7 linked regions of the Homo sapiens genome follow. The protein of the gene in region 2 purifies or fractionates together with the protein of the main gene of each other region. This does not show direct contact. Each region holds a gene or a part of one and is shown on either strand. Other genes may lie near its edges. The genes, in order: HRNR, TRIM6, FOXO3, MYH7, MYH6, DEFB126 and ABCF1.

Region 1 (3,500 bases), on a different chromosome or scaffold from region 2:
TAGATCCATGTTGACCGTAGCCAGAGGACTGTCCTGAGCGAGACTCTCGGTGACCTAAGCCAGAAGAGTGACCGGAGCCAGACTCATATGGGCCACGGCTGGAAGACCACCCTGAGCCAGACCCATATGGGCTGTAGCTGGAAGACTGCCCAGAACCAGACCCATGTCGGCCACGGCTAGGGCTAGGAGACTGGCCAGATCCAGACCCATGTTGGCCGTGGCCCAAAGACTGACGGGAGCCAGACCCATGCTGACCATAGCTGGAAGATGAACCTGAGCTAGATCCGTGTCGTTCACCCCTAGATGACTGTCCTGACCTAGAGCCGTGTTGTTCGTAGCTGGAGGAGTGACCTGAGCCAGATCCATGCTGAGTGTAACCAGAGGACTGCCATGAGCTAGACTCGTGGTGACCAAATCCAGAAGACTGACCTGAGCCAGACCCATGTCGGCCACTGCTGGAAGACCAACCGGAGCCAGACCCATGTTGGCCGTAGCTGGAAGAGTGCCCGGAACCGGACCCATGTCGGCCGCGACTAGGAGACTGGCCAGATCCAGAGCCCTGTTGGCCATAGCTAGAAGACTGACTTGAGCCAGAGCCATGCTGACCGTGGCTGGAAGACTGACCTGTGCTAGATCCCTCCTGGTCAAAGGTTGATGACTGTCCTGATGTAGAACCATGCTGTCCTTGGCTACAGAAGTGCCCTGAGCCACTACCATGCTGACTGTAAGCAGAGGAATGTCCTGAGCCAGACTCATGTTGACCAAAGACAGAAGAGTGACCCGAGCGAGACTCATATGGGCCACGGCTGGAAGAACGACCTGAGCCAGACCCATGTTGGCCGTGGCTGGAGGAGTGCCCCGAACCGGACCCATGTCGGCCGCGGCTAGGGGAATGGCCAGATCCAGACCCTTGTCGGCCGTGGCCCGAAGACTGACGGGAGCCAGACCCATGCTGACCATAGCGGGAAGACGAACCTGAGCTAGATCCGTGTCGTTCACCCCTAGATGACTGTCCTGATCTAGAGCCGTGTTGTCCGTAGCCAGAGGAGTGACCTGAGCCAGACCCATGCTGACTGTAACTAGAGGACTGCCCTGAGCTAGACTCGTGGTGACCAAAGCCAGAAGACTCGCCTAAGCCAGGCCCATGTTGGCCACTGCTGGAAGACCGACCGGAGCCAGACCCATGTCGGCCATAGCTGGGAGACTGCCTTGACCCAGACCCACGCTGGCCGTGGCCTGGAGACTGGCCAGATCCAGAGCCCTGTCGGCCATAGCCAGAAGACTGACTTGAGCCAGAGCCATGCTGACCGTGGCTGGAAGACTGACCTGAGCTAGCTCCATGTTGGCCACAGCTCGATGACTGTCCTGATGCAGAACCATGTTGCCCATGGGTAGAGGAATGACCTGAGCTAGATCCATGTTGACCGTAGCCAGAGGACTGTCCTGAGCGAGACTCTCGGTGACCTAAGCCAGAAGAGTGACCGGAGCCAGACTCATATGGGCCACGGCTGGAAGACCACCCTGAGCCAGACCCATATGGGCCGTAGCTGGAAGACTGCCCAGAACCAGACCCATGTCGGCCACGGCTAGGGCTAGGAGACTGGCCAGATCCAGACCCATGTTGGCCGTGGCCCAAAGACTGACGGGAGCCAGACCCATGCTGACCATAGCTGGAAGATGAACCTGAGCTAGATCCGTGTTGTTCACCCCTAGATGACTGTCCTGACCTAGAGCCGTGTTGTTCGTAGCTGGAGGAGTGACCTGAGCCAGATCCATGCTGAGTGTAACCAGAGGACTGCCATGAGCTAGACTCATGGTGACCAAATCCAGAAGACTGACCTGAGCCAGACCCATGTCGGCCACTGCTGGAAGACCAACCGGAGCCAGACCCATGTTGGCCGTAGCTGGAAGAGTGCCCGGAACCGGACCCATGTCGGCCGCGACTAGGAGACTGGCCAGATCCAGAGCCCTGTTGGCCATAGCTAGAAGACTGACTTGAGCCAGAGCCATGCTGACCGTGGCTGGAAGACTGACCTGTGCTAGATCCCTCCTGGTCAAAGGTTGATGACTGTCCTGATGTAGAACCATGCTGTCCTTGGCTACAGAAGTGCCCTGAGCCACTACCATGCTGACTGTAAGCAGAGGAATGTCCTGAGCCAGACTCATGTTGACCAAAGACAGAAGAGTGACCCGAGCGAGACTCATATGGGCCACGGCTGGAAGAACGACCTGAGCCAGACCCATGTTGGCCGTGGCTGGAGGAGTGCCCCAAACCGGACCCATGTCGGCCGCGGCTAGGGGACTGGCCAGATCCAGACCCTTGTCGGCCGTGGCCCGAAGACTGACGGGAGCCAGACCCATGCTGACCATAGCGGGAAGACGAACGTGAGCTAGATCCGTGTCGTTCACCCCTAGATGACTGTCCTGATCTAGAGCCGTGTTGTCCGTAGCCAGAGGAGTGACCTGAGCCAGACCCATGCTGACTGTAACTAGAGGACTGCCCTGAGCTAGACTCGTGGTGACCAAAGCCAGAAGACTCGCCTAAGCCAGACCCATGTTGGCCACTGCTGGAAGACCGACCGGAGCCAGACCCATGTCGGCCGTAGCTGGGAGACTGCCTTGACCCAGACCCACGCTGGCCGTGGCCTGGAGACTGGCCAGATCCAGAGCCCTGTCGGCCATAGCCAGAAGACTGACTTGAGCCAGAGCCATGCTGACCGTGGCTGGAAGACTGACCTGAGCTAGCTCCATGTTGGCCACAGCTCGATGACTGTCCTGATGTAGAACCATGTTGCCCATGGGTAGAGGAATGACCTGAGCTAGATCCATGTTGACCGTAGCCAGAGGACTGTCCTGAGCGAGACTCTCGGTGACCTAAGCCAGAAGAGTGACTGGAGCCAGACTCATATGGGCCACGGCTGGAAGACCACCCTGAGCCAGACCCATATGGGCTGTAGCTGGAAGACTGCCCAGAACCAGACCCATGTCGGCCACGGCTAGGGCTAGGAGACTGGCCAGATCCAGACCCATGTTGGCCGTGGCCCAAAGACTGACGGGAGCCAGACCCATGCTGACCATAGCTGGAAGATGAACCTGAGCTAGATCCGTGTCGTTCACCCCTAGATGACTGTCCTGACCTAGAGCCGTGTTGTTCGTAGCTGGAGGAGTGACCTGAGCCAGATCCATGCTGAGTGCAACCAGAGGACTGCCATGAGCTAGACTCGTGGTGACCAAATCCAGAAGACTGACCTGAGCCAGACCCATGTCGGCCACTGCTGGAAGACCAACCGGAGCCAGACCCATGTTGGCCGTAGCTGGAAGAGTGCCCAGAACCGGACCCATGTCGGCCGCGACTAGGAGACTGGCCAGATCCAGCCCCATGTCGGCCATAGCCAGAAGACTGACTGGAGCCAGAGCCACGGTGGCCATAGCTGGAAGACTGGCCTGTGCTAGATCCCTCCTGGTCAAAGGTTGATGACTGTCCTGATGTAGAACCATGC
Region 2 (3,500 bases):
GGCTTCTCATTCTCATATCCAATACGTTCTTTATCCCGGCTCATACAAGGCACCAATTTCTCCCCATATTAAAGCAGTGATAATTTCCTCTTGCTCCTATTGAATAGAGACAAACTGAGGCCCTGGAAAGGAGGGGCCTGTGTGAGTCACTGTCTGTGTGATCTTTTCTTTTTTTTCTTTTTTGAGATGGAGACTCACTCTGTCACCCAGGCTGGAATGCAGTGGTACAATCTCAGCTCACTGCAATCTCCGCCTCCCAGGTTCAAGCAATTCTCCTGCCTCAGCCTCCTGAGTAGCTGGGATTACAGGCACGTGCCACAACACCTGGCTAGTTTTTGTATTTTTAGTAGAGATGGAGTTTCACCATGTTAGCCAGGGTGGTCTTGAACTCCTGACCTTAAGTGATGCTCCTGCCTTGGCCTCTCACAGTGCTGGAATTACAGGCATGAGCCACCGCACCTGGAGACTGTGTGACCTTTTCTCACCCAAAACATATCCTCAATGTTAAAAGCACCTAAAACACACTGCTGCCTCAGGATTTTTGCATTTGTCGTTCGTGATGTAAAGATGACCCTTTACTCTGCTATCTGCATGACTTACTAGCTTCCTACCTATTCCCTTATCAGAAGGGTCTGCTCTGACTAGTCTATTTAGAGCACAGCCACCATACAATCACTCTCCACATATTCACCTCATTAGGGGGTCTTGCTCTGTCGCCCAGGCTGGAGTGCAGTGGCGTGATCTCGACTCACTGCAAGCTCCGCCTCCTGGGTTCAAGCCATTCTCCTGCCTCAGCCTCCCGAGTAGCTGGGATTACAGGTGCCTGCCACTATGTCCGGCTAATTTTTTTTGTATTTTTTAGTAGAGATGAGGTTTCACTGTGTTAGCCAGGATGGTCTCGATCTCCTGACCTCATGATCCGCCCGCCTTGGCCTCCCAAAGGGTTGGGACTACAGGCATGAGCCACTGCACCCGGTCTATTTTACTTCTTACACCACTTAATACAGATCTTTACTTGTTTGAATCCTCGCAGTGAAATGTAAGCTCCATGAGATCTGAGACTTTTTGTTCATGGTTGTATCTTCGGCAGCTAGCATAGAGCCTGACATATAGGTCCTCAACTTTGGATGAATGAGGGGGTCAGAACCCCCTCATCCTCTACAGTGATCATCTGTGACCTTTCCATGAGCTCTTTCACCTCTCTGCCATCACCTTTGCATCACTCTCTGGTATCTGATCTCTAAGACTGTGAAAACACTTCCACTTCTTAACGGCCCTGCTCCACATAGAGCCCTCTCACCACATGCTCGCCTTCTCAGAAAAAAACCAAAGAAACAGCAATGGCCACAATAAGGGGTGGTAATTTTTTTGTTGTTGTTGAAACTGAGTCTTGCTCTATCGCCCAGGCTGGAGGGCAGTGGCACTATCTCGGCTCACTGCAACCTCTGCCTCCCGGGTTCAAGCGATTCTCGTGCCTCAGCCTCCTGAGTAGCTGGGATTACAGGTGAGCGCCACCATGCCCAGCTAATTTTTGTATTTTTAGTAGAGACAGGGTTTTACCATGTTGGCCAGGCTGATCTCGAACTCCTGACCTCAAGTGATCTGCCTGCCTTGGCCTCCCAAAGTGCTGGGATTACAAGCGTGAGCCACTGCGCCCAGCCTGGGGAGGTAATATTTTTACAACTCATGATTCTGTAACCAGTTGTGATTTAGAAATCACATTCTCTTGCTTTCTTTATCCCTCATGGACAACTCTGCATAAATAAGAGTATTCTCCATTCTTTAATAAGAAGAGACATTAAGTGACTTTACACAATCATGCACCTTGTAAGTTGTAGAATTGGCATAACCTAACCTTTCCAGGGTGCTAGTTCAAAGCTTCGTCCTCAAACTCATAACTTTGACCAAAGACAGTCAGTGGTAAAGGCTGTGAAAGTCAGGCATGGACCAAGTGCTTTCGAAGTATGGAAATGAGAGAGATCCTATTTGATGATGGGATTTTGCCAGGGCCTGTCTTAAACTTCAGCAGGATCCTAAGGGGGTCCATATGTAAGGAGAGGTGGCCGGTAAGGCAGTTGAGACCTTATATCTTCATTGAGAAATATGACCTTTATTGTCTATTTTTCTTGGAAGAGTTGTTGATAAATTACGTTACCATTGTTTAAAATCACACTGAGAATACTCTTTAGAAAATTTTTAAAACTGTTTCCAGCACTGAGTTATTTTCACTGGGAGCCATTTGTTCTGCTTGTCTACCTGGAGTTGTGTTTGGGCCACCAAAGAAGAGCCAGCTAACACTGCCTATGTGAAGCTCTGGCCCTGGTTCCAGGCGTGACCTCGCTGTTCTGAACAGGCCACAGTGCGTAGGGAGCAGGCAGAATTCTCTAACTTGTCTTTGGCTGGTTTCCCAGCAAAAGTAAATGTACACTGATGTAAAAAACAGTCCGTGTGGGCCTCAACACAAGGCCCTGTAAATTGTACCAATTTACCCCCATCTTGAGGACCTGGTGGATTTAAAAAGTATATCAAACTGCCTCCCAATAACAACACTCCCCTTAGAAGAAAGGGCCTGAGAAAGTGTCTCAGATAAGGGTAAGAAAAAGTCATGGGATGTAAGCATAAGCCTCCTAGCGGCCCTGCTGGGGGATCTAGCGAGCCGAAAACAGGTTCTTGGCGCTGCCATCTAGTGTTCTGTGGTGCTTCTGCAAGTACTAGCCTGGCTCTTCAGCTTTGCCATGCTTAGCAGCAGCGATGCTCACAGCAAATATCTACAGAAAGCCCATTAGGTATTCAGCAAGAATTTAATTATTTTGTACATAATAACTCAATAATTCCACATAACAACATTATGAATGTCCCTTAAATCTCATCTCATAGTTGTATAAACTGGTATTTAGTAGATCTTTCAAGTGGCGGGGCCGGTGTTGAATGCAGATACGCAGGCTGCAGAGCTGGAGCTCTTATTACTCCCTTATATTCCTCATCTCCATAAAGGGTGCAAAATATAATTAACAAATTAATGAACTCTGTGCATCTAACTGGTAGTACTAATTGGTGTTACAGACGTATTTACCTATCATCTGAGAGTCTGTTTAACCAAATTAATCACACCTGTGGGAACTGCACTATTATTTCCTTTGTTAATATCTCCTACCATACCCACATCATCTCACTTAGCACACTGCACTATAAGGCTCTATTGCCTTTGATAATAGAGGCAATAGAGGCTCTAGAGGCAATAGAGGCTCTATTTATCTTCCAGGTGCCCCAGACCTTAGCACTGCAGCTAACACAGGAAATGATCAATTAACTTTATAATGGATTGAAAATTATAGCTTACTGCTGAGCTTATAGTTGGCCTTGATGTTGGCACTAGAGTATAGAAATAAATGTGCTATCTTATCAAAGTGTTACTGTTAAAAAATAATTGTGTTGGCCGGGCGCGGTGGCCCAAGCCTGTAATCCCAGCACTTTGGGAGGCTGAGGCAGGCGGATCACAA
Region 3 (3,500 bases), on a different chromosome or scaffold from region 2:
GCATGTCATGTTTTCAACATTAGGTACTCTTCTAATTTCTCATCAAAAAGTAGGCGGCTCCCTAGAGCAGCTTATTTAGAGGCCAAGGGTGGCCTCGGATAGTTCTCATCATAAATCAAACATTACAGCTGCCAGGCCCCTTGAGGCTAAGCATTCTGCTGATATGCTCCAGATCAGAAAATTATTGTTAGGGACCTGTGACACTCACTCAGAATGTGACATGGTGGCCAACGGCTGGCCTGTCCTGAAAGCAGGGTCTCAACATAAGGGGCAGAGGGCTCTGGCAGCACCCCTGCCCACTTCAGAACCAGGCTAGTCTCTGGGGCCCTGGCCTCTCTGCAGGTGGCTGAGGGTGAGGGTGCCGGGACCCTAGACAGGCTTCACTACCAGATTCTCGGCTGACCCTCTCCAGGGGCTGGTGGGTCTCGCAGTACTGATGCTGCACTTGACTTTACCCTGGTCTCAGCTCTCCACAACACTCTACATGTAGATGCTGTTTTAGTTACTTGAAAAAGAAAAAACAAAACAAAACAAAAAACCAAAGCATTCCCTCTTCATTCTCCTGATCTGTTTTGTGCTGCCTTGCCCTTGTACCTTCTCTGTCCCTTCCTCAGCTGTTTCAGATTAAATGATAATCTGGTTCTAGGACATTCTGTAAGACATTCTGCCTGAAATTCAACAAACGCTAGAAAAGGAGAATAAATGAGATACCATGTCTGAAAAGAATTCAACATTTTAAAGTTGAAACACATTGGAGGGTTGCCTTTCTCACTCCCAAAGCAGCTCCCAGGGTCTGTAAAACTGCAAAGGTAAGTAGCTATTTTGTTAGTCACTTTGCATGTTTCTCTGAACTCAGAAGTTCTCAGGACCCTAATGCTGGAAGCACTCTGGAATTCTCCTATCCCCCCACCCTTTTACATCTCGCTCCCCACTCTAGCCCCCATGCTACTAGTGCCTCTGCAATGCATCCCCACACAGGGCAGCATCCCTTAGGAAGCTTGGAGAGGCAACCCTCCTTCACTGCTACTGGAAAGTTCTTGCATACAGCACATTACTAAAGAATCCAGGAAGTGGCTAGCATTATTATAAAGGAATATAGTAAGCAAGTCTGGCTCACTGACAAGCAGACCATATGAATAGAATACATACTTAAAAAAATTACACATACTTTAAAAATGAAGATTATAAACATGTAGCAGTTTAGAAAAGGCAATGTGCTACAGTCTACTATAACCACAATTGCACAACAATTTACAGATTCAGTAAAAGGCAGGGTGAAATCAACAGGGCCATCGCTCAAACATGGCAACCCAAGCGAGGCAGGAGACGTGTGACAATACCAAATGGAACTCTCATTATGCTAGGAGCTGTGATCACCACCAATATCACCCCCAGAGGAGTTATAAAGCCAAGGCGCACAAGGGGGCCCCTGGTGGCCGGTGGTGTGTGCAGGGGGTTGGGTGGCACGTCTGTGTTGGTGCCCACTGTCACGGTGCAAGCATCAGCAAGAACTCAAGCAGGGAAGTCTGTGCTGAAATACTAGCCTGTATTCCTAAGGCCCATGCATAAGGTTCCATTTTTGTACTGTACATGATAAAATATATTTATACATTTATATGCCTAATGCTTTTTATGCAAAGAAAAGAGTCTTCATATATCACTTTGGAGAAGTATGCATATACTGTGCTAATCAGAGCATCGTTATACCAATTTCTTATGTACCAAAGGTGGTCCCAACTATTCCGTCTACCAAAGAAGGTAACGAATATAATCACACTTTCCAGGTTAAACAGAAAGCACCTATACAGCACCATAACTTTTTGAAAACACAACAAAATGAAATCCATAGAAGCAGAAAAAAAAGTTAAAACTGCCCTATTTTGTACTTCCATTGAGTCACTTGTACAATTACAACCTAAGCTTATATTTAAAAAATCAGTTTGTATGCTATTGCCTCTCACTCATACACTTCTAGCAGATCAGATTATATAGCAAGGCTGAAAATAATCAAGGATGTGTATTTAGGAAAACAGTGAAGTTAGAACTGCCTCAGCATTGACTTGGGTTTTTACTCTTCGCACATTTCTCACTGCAAGCTTAATGCTCACCTGTAAGTTCATTTGTTCTGCAAAGCAAAACAGGACTTTTTTGTTTTTTTTTTTTTTCCTTTTCTTTCTCCTTAAAACTAAACCCTTTAGTGACATTTGGCAATGAGTGGAGAGCTGAGCTGATTTCTTTCCTGAAAATATCAATATTCTAGTTTCTAACCAGCAGACCAACACTGTTCACATTAGCTGAGGACACTGACAGGAAATCACAGGCCCTACTGATCTGGCACCCGTAGACTTGGTGCTGGGGTCCCGTCCACAGATCACCCTGACTCAGAACCGGAAACACACTGGGCCGGACGCTGTGCTCCACTCCTTTTGCCTATGCACGGTTCTGTCCTGGACGGGTGCACATAGCAAACAATTGTGCCATTGTTCAGTTTTTAGAAAAGGATAATTTTCTACCAAACAAAAGAAGAAAGAAAATCCCCCTTTAGTTTATGTAATTTGTTAGTTTATGGAGTTCCATGCGCTCAAAAGCTTGTGATGCTCGAACCCGGAATGGTAACTGGTACAACATTTTCTTTCTGTTTTTAAATTTGCTAGGGGAAGGACGGTTAACATTTTAACAGAAAAATACCGCAAGTTAATGCATGTGAAAAACTCAGAAAGTCAAAGGAAAACAAACACAAGAACAACACTTAAAACGTCCCATAAACCATCGCAATATTAAAACACCACAGAATGGCCGACGGGGGCTCACGGTGTGCTCTGAATGAGGGTGGGTGGTGCTGAGGGGTGCTGTCCTCCACTGGCAGGCGGCTCACCACCCTGTACAAGGAAGATTTTGCATACTTTTTAGAGTTCTGTTCCAAGGGTAAGTGCTTCACCCAGGGTAAGGGGCCATTAACAGTCTCTGCTGGGTTAGGAAAATGGCGTGGGATTCACAAAGGTGTTAAGCTGTAAACGGTATCACTGTCCACTTGCTGAGAGCAGATTTGGCAAAGGGTTTTCTCTGTAGGTCTTGTGTCAGTTTGAGGGTCTAAAGGAGGAGAAAAGAAAACCAGAGATCATTAAGGGCACTGCAACAGCAATAGTGGGCACCTGAGGGCCACCTGTCAAGGCCTTCCATCTCCCTCACCCACCTCAGAGCCCAGGGCTAGCACAGCAAAGCTGCTCTGCTACACCAGTTTCAAAGGTCTGAAATCCTAAGGACAAAGCACAAAGATTACTTACCTTATTTCTCATGTTGTCCTTATTACAAAATGCTCTGAAGTTGAAAAGCCCAAAGGGAATGGGATCATTCACTTTGGGAGATAAAGAAAGCCATATTAGGGGTGTTTTGGTGGGTCCTTTTTAGTTAGATGTTCAAGGTGCAGATAAGATTCTGTTCTAGACTTCCGGACTGAGGGATTTCCTAGGACATGGGACTTTCCATGCTAAAACAAGGAG
Region 4 (3,500 bases), on a different chromosome or scaffold from region 2:
TTTACCTGGCTGGGGAGAGGGAAACAGGCTCAGAAAGGTTAGGGGACTTCCCTAACCTAAGATCACTGAGCTATAAGAGGCAGGTTAGTATGAACCCTGGAGTTTTTTAAAAATCATGTTCTTTCTCCTTTTTCATGAGTCCAGCAAAGTGCTAGGAATAGGCTCCAGTTGAATTTCTTTCTCCAGTTTTCAGGTGGCCCTGCAAATCCCAGGACCCATTTGTGCAGTCCCTACATCCCCTAGCCGTGCCCGGGCAAGGCCATCTCGTGCCTCCCTAGTTCATTTTCTCTCCTCCTTCTCACACCCTGCCTCCCGTCCAGGGATGCAGCAGAAGCAGAGGGCCTCAGCCTGGGGAGTAGATGGCATGTGGCAGGGTTTGGGCTGTGATTTCTTTTTAGAATTCTTGGAGAACTGTTGGTCCACAGCCAGCCTTATTGCTGGGAAGGGAAGTGATTTGATGCAAGGCTAGTCAGTGTGCTCCTTGCTTGGGCCAGGTGGCCCGAGTCTAGCCCTTACCTTAACCTCCTCCTCCAGCTGCCTCTTGAGGTCCTCCAGCTGCTGGGTGTAGGTGAGCTTGCCTCGGGTCAGCTGGGAGATCAGTGCCTCCTTCTCATCCAGCTGCCGGGACAGCTCACCTGGGGAAGCACCATTCTAGATCAGCACTCCTCTCTATCCCCACCTCCTCCTCTAGCCCTCAGGCCCCATTTTCTGGAGAGACTCTGTGTCTGTGTGTGCGTGTATTGGCTTGTGCCCGAGGCTGGAGTGGCTCAGGAGGTTGGGGAGACTGTGGTGGGAACCATGGAGCCCCTGCTCTAGGCTCACCATTCTCGGTTTGCAACTTGGCCCGCTGGCTGGTGAGGTCGTTGACAGAACGCTGGGTCTCCTCCGCCTTGCTCCGGTGCTCATTCATCTGGTCTTCCAAGGTCCGGCACATCTTCTCCAGGTTAGCCTGAGAAGGGAAGGAGAGTTATATGATGGATGTTGGGGGCGGGGGGAATGAAGGGGTGTAAGAGGTGCAACTGAAGGAGAAAAGAAGAGGGAAGGTGTGAAAAGAAGGAGGGGATCTGAGAACCAGGCAGAGGAAGGGAAGTGGGAAAATGAACCATGAAGGAAGAGACACTACATGGACAGAAAGGGGAGGTGGGAGGAGGAAGTTGGAGGAGGGGAGGCCGAGCAGAGCCTGCCTTGGCCTTGATGATCTGCTCCATGTTGGAGGTGACGTCATCCAGCTCCAGCTTGAACTCGCTCTTCTCCTTCTCCAGCTTCTGCTTCACCCGCTGCAGGTTGTCGATCTGCTCGCCCAGCTCGGCCACGCTGTCGGCGTGCTTCTTGCGCAGGGCCGCGGCAGTGGCCTCGTGCTGCAGCGTGGCCTCCTCCAGGTCCCGCCGCATCTTCTGGAACTCGGCCTCGCGCTTCTTGTTCATCTCGATCTGCACGGACGTGGCCCCGCCGGCCTCTTCCAGCCGCTCGCTGATCTCCTCCAGCTCCCGAGACAGGTCTGAGCGCAGCTTCTCCACCTTAGCCCTGGCGGTGCGCTCGGCCTCCAGCTCCTCCTCCAGCTCCTCGATGCGTGCCTGGTCAGACACAAAGGGCTCAGACCCACCGCCTGGACCCCTCCACTGGAATCCCCCCGGCTCTAAAAGGCTCTCGGCTTCTCTGGAACAGCAAGTCAGTTTAGCTCTTCCAGTGGAGAGGTGGGAATTAAAGGATTTGGGGAAGATAGTTTGAAGAGCCTTCCTTTAGGCGAGGGCCTGACAGTCTACATGCTCTTTATTGGAAGGAAAGTGGTTGAAACTTGCTCTTAAAGATGGACAAAGAGACCTGTGTTCTGGGGATATTTTAAGCAGTTTAGTCATAAAAAAATAACAAAAGTTGAAAATGAGAGAGCCGTATTTGTCTGACCAGACAACTAAAGACCTAACACAGCTTCTGCTCTAGAGTAAGGAGGAAAGTCATGCCATCAGAGTCGAAGGACTCTTAAAAACCTCCATGTAACAGGGGAGGGCATGGAGACCCAGAGATCTGGAGTGGGCTCCCAGAGGTCACCCAACTAAGGCAGAGCTGAGACAGGAAGCCAGGAATTCTGCCCTCCAGGCCTGTGACCTTTTCAGGGTCTCTGTGGATCACCTGACCCCTTTTGGATGTATCCATGGGCACACTGTGATAGCTGCGTGCCTGCCTCCATGGACACATAATCAGTTCCTGTAATGCTGTGAACAGGACACCCTAGAGGAGGGGGCAGGGGAAACAGAACCAGCCCAGGGACTCAGCATCCCGCGTGGGTGTCCAGACCTCACCTGAAGCTCCTTGAGCTTCTTCTGCAGCTGGCTGCCGAGGGCCTGTTCATCCTCAATCCTTGCGTTGAGAGCATTCAGCTCAAAGTCTTTTCTGTGGGGAAGGAGGGATGGTGAGGTAAGGGAGACTCGTGGGGCCTCAGGAGGGTCCACCAGTGGTTGAAAATGGTAATGATACAGGTAAAGAGTAGGATTTCATTAGAAAAACAGCTTCTGGGGGTGATGTAGGATCCCTGGAAGTGTAACACCTGCGGTGAGATTGAAATCCAACAAGAATGTAATGGGAGGAGTGCTGTAGACAGGGTGATGGGGCCTGGGCTCTACAGGACATTCCCATCTTTGGTCCTTGTTTTCTCATAATGTAAAATGAGGGGGTCGGACTAGATTGTTTCAAAGGTCCTTTTTAGCTCTGATGGTCTTTAATTTTGTCACTATTGCTTTGGGTAACTCAGCTAACCTTTCTGAAACTTATTTTCCTCTTTGGTAAAGTGAAATTAAAGATACCATCCTTAAAAGGTGTTTTGAGAATCAAATAGGATCGTGTATTTATTCATTTATTCAACACATTCTGTGCCTGGGAAGGTATGAAGATTCCTGTGCAAACACAAACTTGATGAGGATGTAGATTATGATGATTCTCAAAGCCTTTCAAAGTCCTGAGCCTGAAACACCATAAGACCTTCAATTATCAAAATATGTTCTGCAAGCTCACTGTTTACCAAGTCTGGAAAGTCTATACATTTTGGAAGAACTTACACTAAGAATTGGAACCACAAGTTAAGCAAAACAAAGAAATGGCCCTGATCCCCTGACTTCTTTAATGTGAGGGCATTTCTTGGTGCCCTGTGGGCTCTCTGTGAAAAGCCACAAAGGGACTTTCCTAAGAGGCTCTCATGTGGAGCCTTCCTCCATGTCAAGGAACTGGTCTCCAAAGAGAGATGTGTATGAAGGGGGAAGGCTGTTATTTTCATTCCCACTGAGTGCCTAACAAGAAGAAAGGACTCATGGGATACAATGGACTTTTTGCCAGGGAGGACCATCTAACTAACCCTGATATCTGGGACTAGGGGAGGAAAGCCCTTGCCTGGGAGGCCTTTTCCCATGGTTTGCGCCTCCACTTGTGGAGGCTGCGTGAGGTTGTTGCCTCAGAGGATGGCTGTCTTGGGTCTGCTTGTACTGTTATGGGCTGGGGAGGAGGAAGGGCAG
Region 5 (3,500 bases), on a different chromosome or scaffold from region 2:
CTCTGCTGCTTGTAGGACCCATCCATGAACAGTCCATTAAAGCTGTCCATAACCCGAGGTGAAGGGATTTCCACTGAACCCCCGTTTTGCTCCTGGCTAGCCAGACAACAGATCAAAATGGTAGATACGATATTCTCCCAATTTAGTCAAGACCAAGGCTAAGGCCCAAAAAATGAGGTAAGGGCACTTAAAGAGGATAAGGAGATGAGGTGAAGAGGAGAGTAGCCTGCTAGCACTTTCCTGGCCTGGAAGGGAGCAATCATGTTGAAACCCAGCCCTGGGCATAAACACAGCAAGCCTGGGAGAGCAAGGAATATGGTTGATTGGACTTTGTGGTTAACTTGGAGAATTGCAAAGGTATCTGATTGTTTCGAGGCATGTTGTCACAAATATTTGTAAAATACAAGCACTCATTTTCCCGTCTTATGAATAGCGCAACAGAGCCTAGTGAATCTGGGGACTCTGAACTTCTTGATCTCACAGGATACCAGGATCCCCCTTCAACCACAGGTTCTCAGGATTTGGGGCTGCAGATGCTCACACTGGGTCTGAGATGCCCTTGGGAGCTTCAGCCAAATTCCTATTGATGGCCTATGCATTATAGGATGTTTAGTAGCATCCCTGGCCCCTACCCTCTAGATGCCAGTAGCAAGCCCCACCAAGACATGACAATCAGACATTGCCAACTGTTCCCTGGGGCACAAAATTGCCCCTAGTTGAGAACCACTGCTTGAGAGGAACCTAAGTTCCTGGTAGCTTTTCAGAGCCGGGGGGATTCCAGTGGAGGGGTCCAGGCGGTGGGTCTGAGCCCTTTGTGTCTGACCCAGGCACGCATCGAGGAGCTGGAGGAGGAGCTGGAGGCCGAGCGCACCGCCAGGGCTAAGGTGGAGAAGCTGCGCTCAGACCTGTCTCGGGAGCTGGAGGAGATCAGCGAGCGGCTGGAAGAGGCCGGCGGGGCCACGTCCGTGCAGATCGAGATGAACAAGAAGCGCGAGGCCGAGTTCCAGAAGATGCGGCGGGACCTGGAGGAGGCCACGCTGCAGCACGAGGCCACTGCCGCGGCCCTGCGCAAGAAGCACGCCGACAGCGTGGCCGAGCTGGGCGAGCAGATCGACAACCTGCAGCGGGTGAAGCAGAAGCTGGAGAAGGAGAAGAGCGAGTTCAAGCTGGAGCTGGATGACGTCACCTCCAACATGGAGCAGATCATCAAGGCCAAGGCAGGCTCTGCTCGGCCTCCCCTCGCCCTCTCCCCTGCACAGCGGAGCCTCCCCCATGCCTTCTCTCTCTGTCTGCCATCTCCCTTGTCATTCTCATTCTCTTCATCACCCTTTGGTCTCTCTTCCTGTCTCCCCTGCCCCTCTCTGGCTCTCCTCACCCTCTCTATCTCTTCATGTTCCTCCTTTCTTTAATTCAAGTCTCTCTTCAGACTGCGCCCTCCCACACCTTCTGTGTCCCCCTCCTGCCCTCTGGCATTCCCCATCTCTGACCCTCTCTTCCTTCCTCTGGTCGACTCAGCCCCTCCCACACTCACCCTTCCTGTCTTGCTTCCTGAAGGCAAACCTGGAGAAAGTGTCTCGGACGCTGGAGGACCAGGCCAATGAGTACCGCGTGAAGCTAGAAGAGGCCCAACGCTCCCTCAATGATTTCACCACCCAGCGAGCCAAGCTGCAGACCGAGAATGGTGGGTGCCCCTAACCAACCCCCTGCCTAGGGCAGGACATGACTTGTGAAATGGCCCACAAGCCCCTCATTTCACCTCCAGGAGAGTTGGCCCGGCAGCTAGAGGAAAAGGAGGCGCTAATCTCGCAGCTGACCCGGGGGAAGCTCTCTTATACCCAGCAAATGGAGGACCTCAAAAGGCAGCTGGAGGAGGAGGGCAAGGTGAGGCCCAGTGGGGAGGGTGGGCAGGCTTGATGGCAGCCCTGGGGCAATTCATCTCAGTGCCAGAAATGGAGCCTGGAGCTGGAAAGAGTCCTCTGCAAGGGAAAGACCCTCCAGTCTAGGTTCTGCCCTGCAGCTAAGCGTCATTTAATGCCTCTTTTCTTATTCGTAAGGGGATGGGGTGAGCAGACTGGGAAACTCCTCAAACAGTGAGGTGCCACATCAGCCCACATGGTGAATAAGGCTGGGCTTGGTTGAAGTACTACATAAGAAGAGAATCTAGAGAATGGGGCACAGGGAGTCCCTCCCACCTCCTGGTGCCCCCCCCCCTCCCCAGGCGAAGAACGCCCTGGCCCATGCACTGCAGTCGGCCCGGCATGACTGCGACCTGCTGCGGGAGCAGTACGAGGAGGAGACAGAGGCCAAGGCCGAGCTGCAGCGCGTCCTGTCCAAGGCCAACTCGGAGGTGGCCCAGTGGAGGACCAAGTATGAGACGGACGCCATTCAGCGGACTGAGGAGCTCGAAGAGGCCAAGTGAGCTCCAGATACCCCCTTAACCTGACTCTCAGAGAGGAAGGGGCGAGAGGACCTGGGGTGGGGACAGGCAAAGTGGTCATGAGACGGAAGTGGAAGAGACAGGAGGAACTCGGAGGGCAACAGAAGTGCTTGGAAGAAAGCCTGAACTCTTTGCTCTGTGAACTCTGGCTGGCCCTGACCCACTTCCTGTGACGGGCGAGCTTTTGGCCCGGGTTATACCTGATGCTCACGTATAAGACGAGCAAAAAGCTTGTTGGTCAGAGGAGCTACCGTCGATCAGCCTGTGTGGGGGGTGAGGGCAGGGGGCACTGACACCCAGATGCCACTGCAGGTAGGGAGGACGCCTGGGCAGCCCGTGCTGGCGGACTCTGTTCCAGGCATGAGCAGGCTCAGCTCCTGCTAGGCTGGACTTACGGTGTCTCAAGGAGATATAGGGAGGGGGTGGAAGGAGGTCCACCCAAGGCTCCAGTGTTGCCCAGTAGAGTCACACACACACCCTCCACCCTCACCTGGGCAGAAAGAAGCTGGCCCAGCGGCTGCAGGATGCCGAGGAGGCCGTGGAGGCTGTTAATGCCAAGTGCTCCTCACTGGAGAAGACCAAGCACCGGCTACAGAATGAGATAGAGGACTTGATGGTGGACGTAGAGCGCTCCAATGCTGCTGCTGCAGCCCTGGACAAGAAGCAGAGAAACTTTGACAAGGTGGACCATGGGCGGGGGCCGCAGCCAGCATGCAGGGCAAGGGGGCATGAGGGGTTCAGTGAGAGGCCAAAGGCAACCTCCTTGGAGGTGGAGGAGGAGGGCTAAGCCCAGGCTCGGGACCAGGGACAGATCTTGGACATGCGGCTGAGGCTGGGGGCTGGGGCACTGGGAAGCAGGAGGGCTGGGGAGCTAAGGCTGGGGGGCTGAAGAGTGAGCCTTGTCCCCGGGCAGATCCTGGCCGAGTGGAAGCAGAAGTATGAGGAGTCGCAGTCTGAGCTGGAGTCCTCACAGAAGGAGGCTCGCTCCCTCAGCACAGAGCTCTTCAAGCTCAAGAACGCCTACGAGGAGTCCCTGGAGCACCTAGAGACCTTCAAGCGGGAG
Region 6 (4,045 bases), on a different chromosome or scaffold from region 2:
TTAAGCCTAAGTATTTATCACAGGAGGATAAAAAATAGCAATAGTTTTTGAGCACTGTTTATTCAAGTGCCTTTCCAGTTGCTTTAGCATGTTTTTCCTAATCATAAATACCTACTTTGAGGATTAAGTGAAATTTTATAAACACACATAGAATTCTTTAGATATGTATGAGATTCTCATTTCTGAAATCAGAATTCTGTATACAAACACTTACCAGGGGCCAATTCCCCATGATTTTAAATGGGAAAATATATAGCATGTTGTTATACATGAACACAAAATCCCCAAGCAATTTCCTAAAATGTAGCTAAAACACAAACACCTAAACAGAAGTAAAAACTATCATTTCAAAAATAAGAAATGCTAAAATAATTGCTGTCATCTTTCTCACCATTACTGAAACACATATGGCTTTTGTTGCCAATTGGTGAGATTTTCAAAATGTCCCTTACATGTTTCTGAGATCCTAAAAATTATATTTAGAAGATAACTCTAGGCTTATCTTACATATTATCTGGTTAAAAATGTCATGTCAAGTTATGGAAAGATAAATAAAAAATTTTCATCTATACCTATATACCTATATGATATTGAGATATAAGTACATTTTACAAAATTTTGAGAATAAAAAAAGCCATTCCATTAGGAATATATTCATTAGGGAGACATTCTGCAGGGTTTGCCTATATATGTGTACATATTATATACATATGAAAATATCTCATCACATGGTTTAACACATAGAGGCCCTAGAGTGACGCTGGAGCTCTTTCTTACCTTGCTTAACTCATTACTGTACTTAATCAACAAGTATATGATGAGTGCCTACCATGTCAAGAATTCTGCAAGATGCAGGGAATAAAACAATGAACAGAAAGACATGATTTGAGGACCTTACATTGGAGAGGGGGAGAAAGAAAATAAACAAGTAAATGAATAAACAAAATAACTACAGATTGTGATAAGTACAATAAATGAAAGAAATATGAGGTAATTGACAGTAAGTGAACAGAGCAAACGTTTTTGAATGCTATTACCACTACTATTATCCCTTATCAGCTGTTTAATCCTCCTCTGATGATTGAGTTTTTAACATTATATATATGTATATGTTAGAATATATATACACACACACAAAGTGTAGAAAAAGGACAACATACAAGTATGTGATGTATGTCGATGTATGTCACTAATGTTCCAGAGACAGAGGGAGAAATCAGGCAATTTAAACTCATAGAATTTCAAGGATGCAATAGGCCTGAAACATCTTTTGAGACAACCATGAGAGCATTATAATTTCCTCTTATCCACTATCAATTTGAACATTTCTGCAAATTAGGGAATATAAACTACTATCTCTAGAGGCGGGCTATGGAGTTATTATATAACCCATTAGGAAATTATACTAAAGAATATTAGTTTATTTCATTGTGCCTTATGTAAAAAGGTGGGATTGAGTCCGGTGTAAAAAACAAAATCATAGGTGAATAACTGTTCTCAACACGGAGAAGGACTTACTAAGTTAGTGGAAGAATGCAAAGAAAACACCAATAGATTTGACATGAAAATGAAAATTATGTGTCTCAAATAAATAATGCATTTTAGAAGCAACCAATATGTTTGAAAATATTTGCAAGAAATATGAAATACAAATGTTAAAAATACAAATACTCCAATAGTAACCATTGGCAATATGTGCCAGTTAACTTAGAAGAAATAATACCCTTGTACCAAGCAATGGAACTTCTAAAATTTACCTATACAAACAGAGAATCTCACAATGATATATTAATAAGGTTGTACAATGTTATTTACAGTACTCACACATTAGAAAAAATAATCCAAATGACACACAATTAAGGACTTTCCAAGTTAATATTGGTACAAAAATATGACAGAATTATAAGCATCTACTGCAAATTGTATTTTCAAGGAATATTCAAGACCTGTGAAAATTTTCCTGATAGAATCGTAGGTAAAAAAATAAAGCAGGTTATAAGCTCATATATCAGTTGGTTACAAGTGAAAAAATGCAAGCAGTGATGAAATGTGGCCAATTTATTTCTAAATAACTTTCAGTGTTCTTGTCTTGGTTTTGTAAATATAAGCTACAGAATAAATTAAAAATAAGAAATGCTTACACAAACAGAGCTGAAATCTGATATAGACTTCCAATAGTTCCCACACAGAATTTTTTTTTTCATTTTCCATTTTACAGTCCTATACATATATAGAAACAGCCTTTCCTGTTCTGTTAACCACATCCAAGAACAAACAAACAAACAAAAAATCAGAGACCTCTCTGTAAGACCAAGAAAACTGGGGGAAGTAATATTATATAATTGTTACCTCAGGAGGGAATATCGGCAGCAAAAAAAACAAAAGTGAAATGAGGCAGGGCTTGACTGGACTGACCCGAAGTGACAGGATAGAAGTTTGGGATTTCAAGATCATTTCTACCTTTGGAGGCAACTGTATGGGATTTGCCTTACCCTCCTCCCCAGCTCCGATCACAGATCCTGCTCTATCCTGAGAGCCTTCAAGTTTCTTAGAACAGAGGTGGTCTGAAGAAGTAGGACAAATCTCAGCCCTGCTCCCAGTGAGAAGCCAGACCCCATTTCCACAGACCACTTAGAAACAGGGACTCCATGTGCAGGACCCTGTTCCAGGCCAGTGTTTCTTCTTCCCCAAGATTCTGTTTACCTGAGACCAATTGGGCCAGGAGCATAAAAACTGCAAGGGTGAACAGTAGGGACTTCATCAGGAGGCAGTGGGTTCTATAGAGTCCAGAAGTCTCTATTCAGTATGACTCTGAACACAGATCTTTATTGTCCTTCTTAGGTGGGGTTGGGCTCAGCCAGTAGATCGGGAGGATGTAGGATATTGTGCCAACATAGCTTCAATCTATTGGCTAGCAACTCTAATTGAGGCATCACTGTTCAAGAGTCCTGTGCTAGGCATGCCTTGGGGGAAGGATAAAGACTTAGAAGAGAAGTTGCAAACTCTGCTGAAGTGTATGGCAATTTGGAGAGAAAGAATTACAGGAAGAAATTATGCTGCTCTACCAAGGCTGGGTGCTCCTAGCAGTTTTTTCACAGCCTCCAGTGTTAGTTCTATCAGGGTTCATCTTACTGCATGTAGCAGTCTGGTCACCTGCCTGTCTCTCCACCTAAAATACAATGTCTTTCTGAACACTTATGATGTATTATTCATATATATATATAATTCTTTTCTGTACATCATTCTTTTCAGAGAAGGATATAAGCAATTGTTTTTTAACTGACCAAATTAATGCTTTGTTGATGATCTGGAAATTTAGAAAGCCTTTTACAAAGAAATAAATAAGTGCTCAAAGATAAATGCACAAAGAAGTCTTGTCACTCTGTAGAGTAGCATAAAACGAAGTGCATCCATATGATTTAATTCTGTGCTTCTGTTAAAAAGAGTGCAGCAGATTTTATCTTACTAAACATTTTTTGAGTGAAAAAGCAACATTTTAGAACAACATGCATAGCAATGATTCTAATTTATGTGAAAAAGCTATATTTATGTGTATATAAGTAAATGCATGAACTAAAAATGCAAATCACATGTCATTCTAATAAAAGTTGTTTTCTCTGGATGGGATTGAGTTTAAGGTGGCATTCAAAGAGAATTTTATTGTGTTAAAGTTTTTTTTTGAGTGCCTGACTATATTGTGACTGAAAGCTATCAGGTCCTAGAGGTTTTGTTCTTTGTGAGGAGTTTTTTTTTTTCATTCCAAATTATTGAGATATAATTGATGTACATTAAACTGCATTATTTAGAGTGTATAATTTGATGAACTTGGCAAAAGATGCACTGGTGAAACCATTACCTTAATCAACATAATGTATATATCCTTCACTCTCAAAATGTTTCTCATTCCTCTTTGGCATCCACTCTTTCCTCTTCCCTTCCCTCCCTCTACCTCCATGATACCCAGGCAACGACTGACCTGCTATTTGTTCTTGTAGCTTTCTTGGCATTCTCTTGAATATTACATAAATGAAGTAATATAGCATGT
Region 7 (3,500 bases), on a different chromosome or scaffold from region 2:
ACGGAGTGAGACTCCATCTCAAAAAAAAAAAAAAAAAAAAAAAGATCAGGAAGCTCTAGTGCACAGTCAGAGGAATCCAGCAGAATCACAGAATTAGGAAGTGCCAGACGCATAGGGACCCTAGAGATCTCCGGACTCCTCCTTCTATCACACAAAGGAGACAAGTGAGACCCAAGGGGATGGGAAGATGTATTCAAGGTCACACAGCCAGTGAAGGCAGAGCCAGGACCCAGATCATCTGAGATAAATTCCAGGCCCTTTCTTCACTGGATTAGGTGTTGCAAACTACAGCCCATGGGCCAAGGCTGACCTGACATTTATTTTTATATAGCTCCTGAACTTTATAAAAATAATTTTTGTATTTTCAAAGAGTTGTTAAAAAAAAAAAAGAATATGTGATAGAGATTGTATGTGGCCTGCAAAGCCAAAAACATTTACTATATGGCCCTTTATAGAAAAAGTTTGCTGGCTGGCATGCTGGCTCACACCTGTAAACCCAGCATTTTGGGAGGCTGAGGCAGGAGGACTGCTTGAGCCCAGAAATTCAAGACCAGCCTGAGCAACATAGTGAGACCTCATCTCTATACTAAAAATAAAAAAATTAGCCAGGGGTAGTGGTGCACACTTGTAGTCCCAGCTACTCAGTAGGCTGAGGCAGGAGAATCTGTTGAGCCCAGGAGGTTGAGGCTTCAGTGAGCCGTGTTCACACCACTGCACTCCAGCCTGAGTGACAGAGTAAGATCCTGTGTAAACAAAAACAAAAACAAAAACAAACGAACCACCACCCCAACTACTCCCCCAAAAAAAGAAAAGAATAAAGGTTTGCTGGGATAATAACTATATCCCCAGATTCTAACTCTCCCATAAGGACCCTGGAAGCCCTAGTCCCTCATTCCACCTTGCCCCAACACCAAATACACACCTGCTCTGCCTTCTTGGCCTTCTCCTTCCCTTGTTTGGGAGGCTCCTTTTCCTTTATAATTTCTTCTTCTTTATCCTCCTCTTCATTGTCCAGAGCAGCGAATTTATTTTGAGGCTAATAGGGAAAAGACAGGTCTGATGAAATGTTTTTTTTTTTTTTCTTTTTTTTTTTTTGAGACGGAGTCTCGCTCTGTCACCCAGGCTGGAGTGCAGTGGCGCAATCTCGGCTCACTGCAAGCTCCACCTCCCGGGTTCACGCCATTCTCCTGCCTCAGCCTCCCGAGTAGCTGGGACTACAGGCGCCCGCCACCACGCCCGGCTAATTTTTTTTGTATTTTTAGTAGAGACGGGGTTTTACCGTGTTACCAGGATGGTCTCGATCTCCTGACCTCGTGATCCGCCCACCTCGGCCTCCCAAAGTGCTGGGATTACAGGCGTGAGCCACCGCGCCCAGCCCTGATGAAATGTTTTAATTCCTGGGCCCCAATACCTCCTCCTGCTAGTTACTCTCTCACCTTAGCCTTCCCTTTTGACTTCTCTTCCTTTCCCTTTTTGCCCTTGAGTGCAGGCTGCTGTTCCTCAGATACGGCCTGGAGGAGACACACATACACATTACACACATACATACAAATTATTGTGCTACTTTGCTGTGTAATAAGCATTTCTAGAGAGTCTACTGTGTTAACCATACACATGCTCCTCCATTTACGACAGGTTGCATCCCGATAAACCCACCAGAAACTTAAATAAAAAATGATAGTTCTTGGCCGGGCGTGGTGGCTCACACCTGTAATCCCAGCACTTTGGGAGGCCAAGGCAGGTGGATCACAAGGTCAAGAGATCGAGACCATCCTGGTCAACATGGTGAAACCCTGTCTCTACTAAAAACACAAAAATTAGCTGGGCGTGGTGGCACGTGCCTGTAATCTCAGCTACTCAGGAAGCTGAGGCAGGAGAATCACTTGAACCCGGGAGGCGGAGGTTGCAGTGAGCCAGGATTACGCCACTGCACTCCAGCCTGGCAACAGAGTGAGACTCCGTCTCAAAAAAAAAAAAAAAAAAAAATAGTTCCAACTTATGATGGGTTTATCTGGATATAATCCCATCATGAGTTGAGGAGTACCCTAAATGAGTATGACTTTCACACCATCATAAAGTAGAAAAATCGTACACCGAAGCAGAAGTTGGAGACCATCTGTATTGAGTGCTGCTGACGAAAAATGAGACCCAGAAAAACCCTACCCTCCAGCTTCAGACTAGATAGCGAAGAGATAACTAGGGAACGTCAGCAAGGCTAAGGATTATAAGTCAGGCAAGTGCGCCACCAGAGTGAGTGGCACTAGCACTGGAGGCTTTCTCAAGAGCTCAAATGGACATGGACTAAGATGCACACGCAGAAGAGTCACAAGTAGAAGAGCAAGGACCTGGGGCTTTGTTTCAGGTTCTGTGCTTAAAGCAACAGAATCACTGTAGATTTCTGAGTGATAAAAATGGCATGGTTTTTTTTGTTGTTTTTTTTTTGAGACTGAGTCTTGCTCTGTTGCCCAGGCTGGAGTGCAGTGCCTCAATCTCAGCTCACTGCAAATTCCACCTCCCAAGTTCAAGTGATTCTCCTGCCTCAGCCTTCCAAGTAGCTGGGATTACAGGCGCACGCCACCACGCCTGGCTAATTTTTGTATTTTTAGTAGAGATGAGGTTTCGCCATGTTGGTCAGGCTGGTCTCGATCTCTTGACCTCGTGATTCGCCCACCTCGGCCTCCCAAAGTGCTGGGATTACAGGCGTGACCCACTGTGCCCAGCCTGGGCATGTATTCTAAAAAGATGATTTTAACAGTATAAGTAAGACAGACCGAGAAGAGCTAGTTTAAAAGCGGGAAATTACTCCACCATGGCCAGAAGGTGCTAAATGGAGTGAGAGTGACTGATCGAGCCACCACTGTCACCTTATTGATCCGATTCTTCTCCGGCTTGGCAGGCTTAGGAGGATGTTTTTCTTCCTCCTCCTCTTCCTCACTCTGATCCTGAATCAGGGCTGCAAAAACATTACCACCCTAGAGAATGAAAGGGCCACAGAAGTCAGTAGGATGGTCAAGGTTGCATCCTTGGAGTCTCCGTTTACCACACAGATGGCTTACCTTGGTTTTCTTCCCTCCGCGGGGTTTTGGGGCGGGTACTGAAATGACAGGGGGAGAACATGAGATAGGAAAGAATTACAATGTCTGGCCCCCCAATTGAATCCAACTTGAAGATCAGGGTATGAGGTATCACTCTCCATGACTCATGGATTCCAGGTACCCATTCCCCCTCAGGTCATTTACCTTCATCCTCCTCATCACTGGTTGGCACTGAGAGCTTCTTAAGACGCTCCATGAGCTCTTTCTCTTCTCCATCATCATCCACATCCTTCTTCCGCCTGCCTTTTCGGGTATCTCGCTTTTTTTTTTGCTGCTGAGAGCAAAAGAACAGTGAGAAAATGAAGCCCAGGCCCCTGCTGTATTTCTGCCTCACAGAGGGTTCCCCATCAGCTGAATGGAGCAACATGGGCTGGAAAGGGGTTGGTGGAACCCAGATGCCTCCCA

What was found.
Region 1: the proteins of TRIM6 (region 2) and HRNR purify together in Homo sapiens (affinity purification with mass spectrometry, with the first as the bait; one large-scale study listed by BioGRID). This does not show direct contact.
Region 3: the proteins of TRIM6 (region 2) and FOXO3 purify together in Homo sapiens (affinity purification with western blotting; one study listed by BioGRID). This does not show direct contact.
Region 4: the proteins of TRIM6 (region 2) and MYH7 purify together in Homo sapiens (affinity purification with mass spectrometry, with the first as the bait; one large-scale study listed by BioGRID). This does not show direct contact.
Region 5: the proteins of TRIM6 (region 2) and MYH6 purify together in Homo sapiens (affinity purification with mass spectrometry, with the first as the bait; one large-scale study listed by BioGRID). This does not show direct contact.
Region 6: the proteins of TRIM6 (region 2) and DEFB126 purify together in Homo sapiens (affinity purification with mass spectrometry, with the first as the bait; one large-scale study listed by BioGRID). This does not show direct contact.
Region 7: the proteins of TRIM6 (region 2) and ABCF1 purify together in Homo sapiens (affinity purification with mass spectrometry, with the first as the bait; one large-scale study listed by BioGRID). This does not show direct contact.

What each region holds. Positions count from the first base shown.
Region 1 is NC_000001.11:152,214,194-152,217,693, forward strand, and holds part of HRNR (hornerin), read right to left. Parts: coding exon 1-3,500. UniProt on the Homo sapiens protein: Component of the epidermal cornified cell envelopes.
Region 2 is NC_000011.10:5,599,637-5,603,136, reverse strand, and holds part of TRIM6 (tripartite motif-containing protein 6), read right to left. Parts: intron 1-3,500.
Region 3 is NC_000006.12:108,679,417-108,682,916, reverse strand, and holds part of FOXO3 (forkhead box protein O3), read right to left. Parts: intron 3,091-3,500; coding exon of another isoform or gene 3,004-3,090; 3' UTR 1-3,003. UniProt on the Homo sapiens protein: Transcriptional activator that recognizes and binds to the DNA sequence 5'-[AG]TAAA[TC]A-3' and regulates different processes, such as apoptosis and autophagy.
Region 4 is NC_000014.9:23,418,661-23,422,160, forward strand, and holds part of MYH7 (myosin-7), read right to left. Parts: intron 2,389-3,500; coding exon 2,298-2,388; intron 1,575-2,297; coding exon 1,185-1,574; intron 950-1,184; coding exon 823-949; intron 636-822; coding exon 517-635; intron 1-516. UniProt on the Homo sapiens protein: Myosins are actin-based motor molecules with ATPase activity essential for muscle contraction. Forms regular bipolar thick filaments that, together with actin thin filaments, constitute the fundamental contractile unit of skeletal and cardiac muscle.
Region 5 is NC_000014.9:23,387,774-23,391,273, reverse strand, and holds part of MYH6 (myosin-6), read left to right. Parts: intron 1-827; coding exon 828-1,217; intron 1,218-1,554; coding exon 1,555-1,681; intron 1,682-1,762; coding exon 1,763-1,881; intron 1,882-2,218; coding exon 2,219-2,415; intron 2,416-2,607; exon of another isoform or gene 2,608-2,678; intron 2,679-2,935; coding exon 2,936-3,119; intron 3,120-3,350; coding exon 3,351-3,500. UniProt on the Homo sapiens protein: Muscle contraction.
Region 6 is NC_000020.11:141,345-145,389, reverse strand, and holds the start of DEFB126 (beta-defensin 126 isoform 1 preproprotein), read right to left. Parts: upstream 2,801-4,045; 5' UTR 2,762-2,800; coding exon 2,704-2,761; intron 1-2,703.
Region 7 is NC_000006.12:30,577,942-30,581,441, reverse strand, and holds part of ABCF1 (ATP-binding cassette sub-family F member 1), read right to left. Parts: intron 3,367-3,500; coding exon 3,240-3,366; intron 3,095-3,239; coding exon 3,057-3,094; intron 2,973-3,056; coding exon 2,865-2,972; intron 1,512-2,864; coding exon 1,437-1,511; intron 1,037-1,436; coding exon 923-1,036; intron 1-922. UniProt on the Homo sapiens protein: Isoform 2 is required for efficient Cap- and IRES-mediated mRNA translation initiation. Isoform 2 is not involved in the ribosome biogenesis.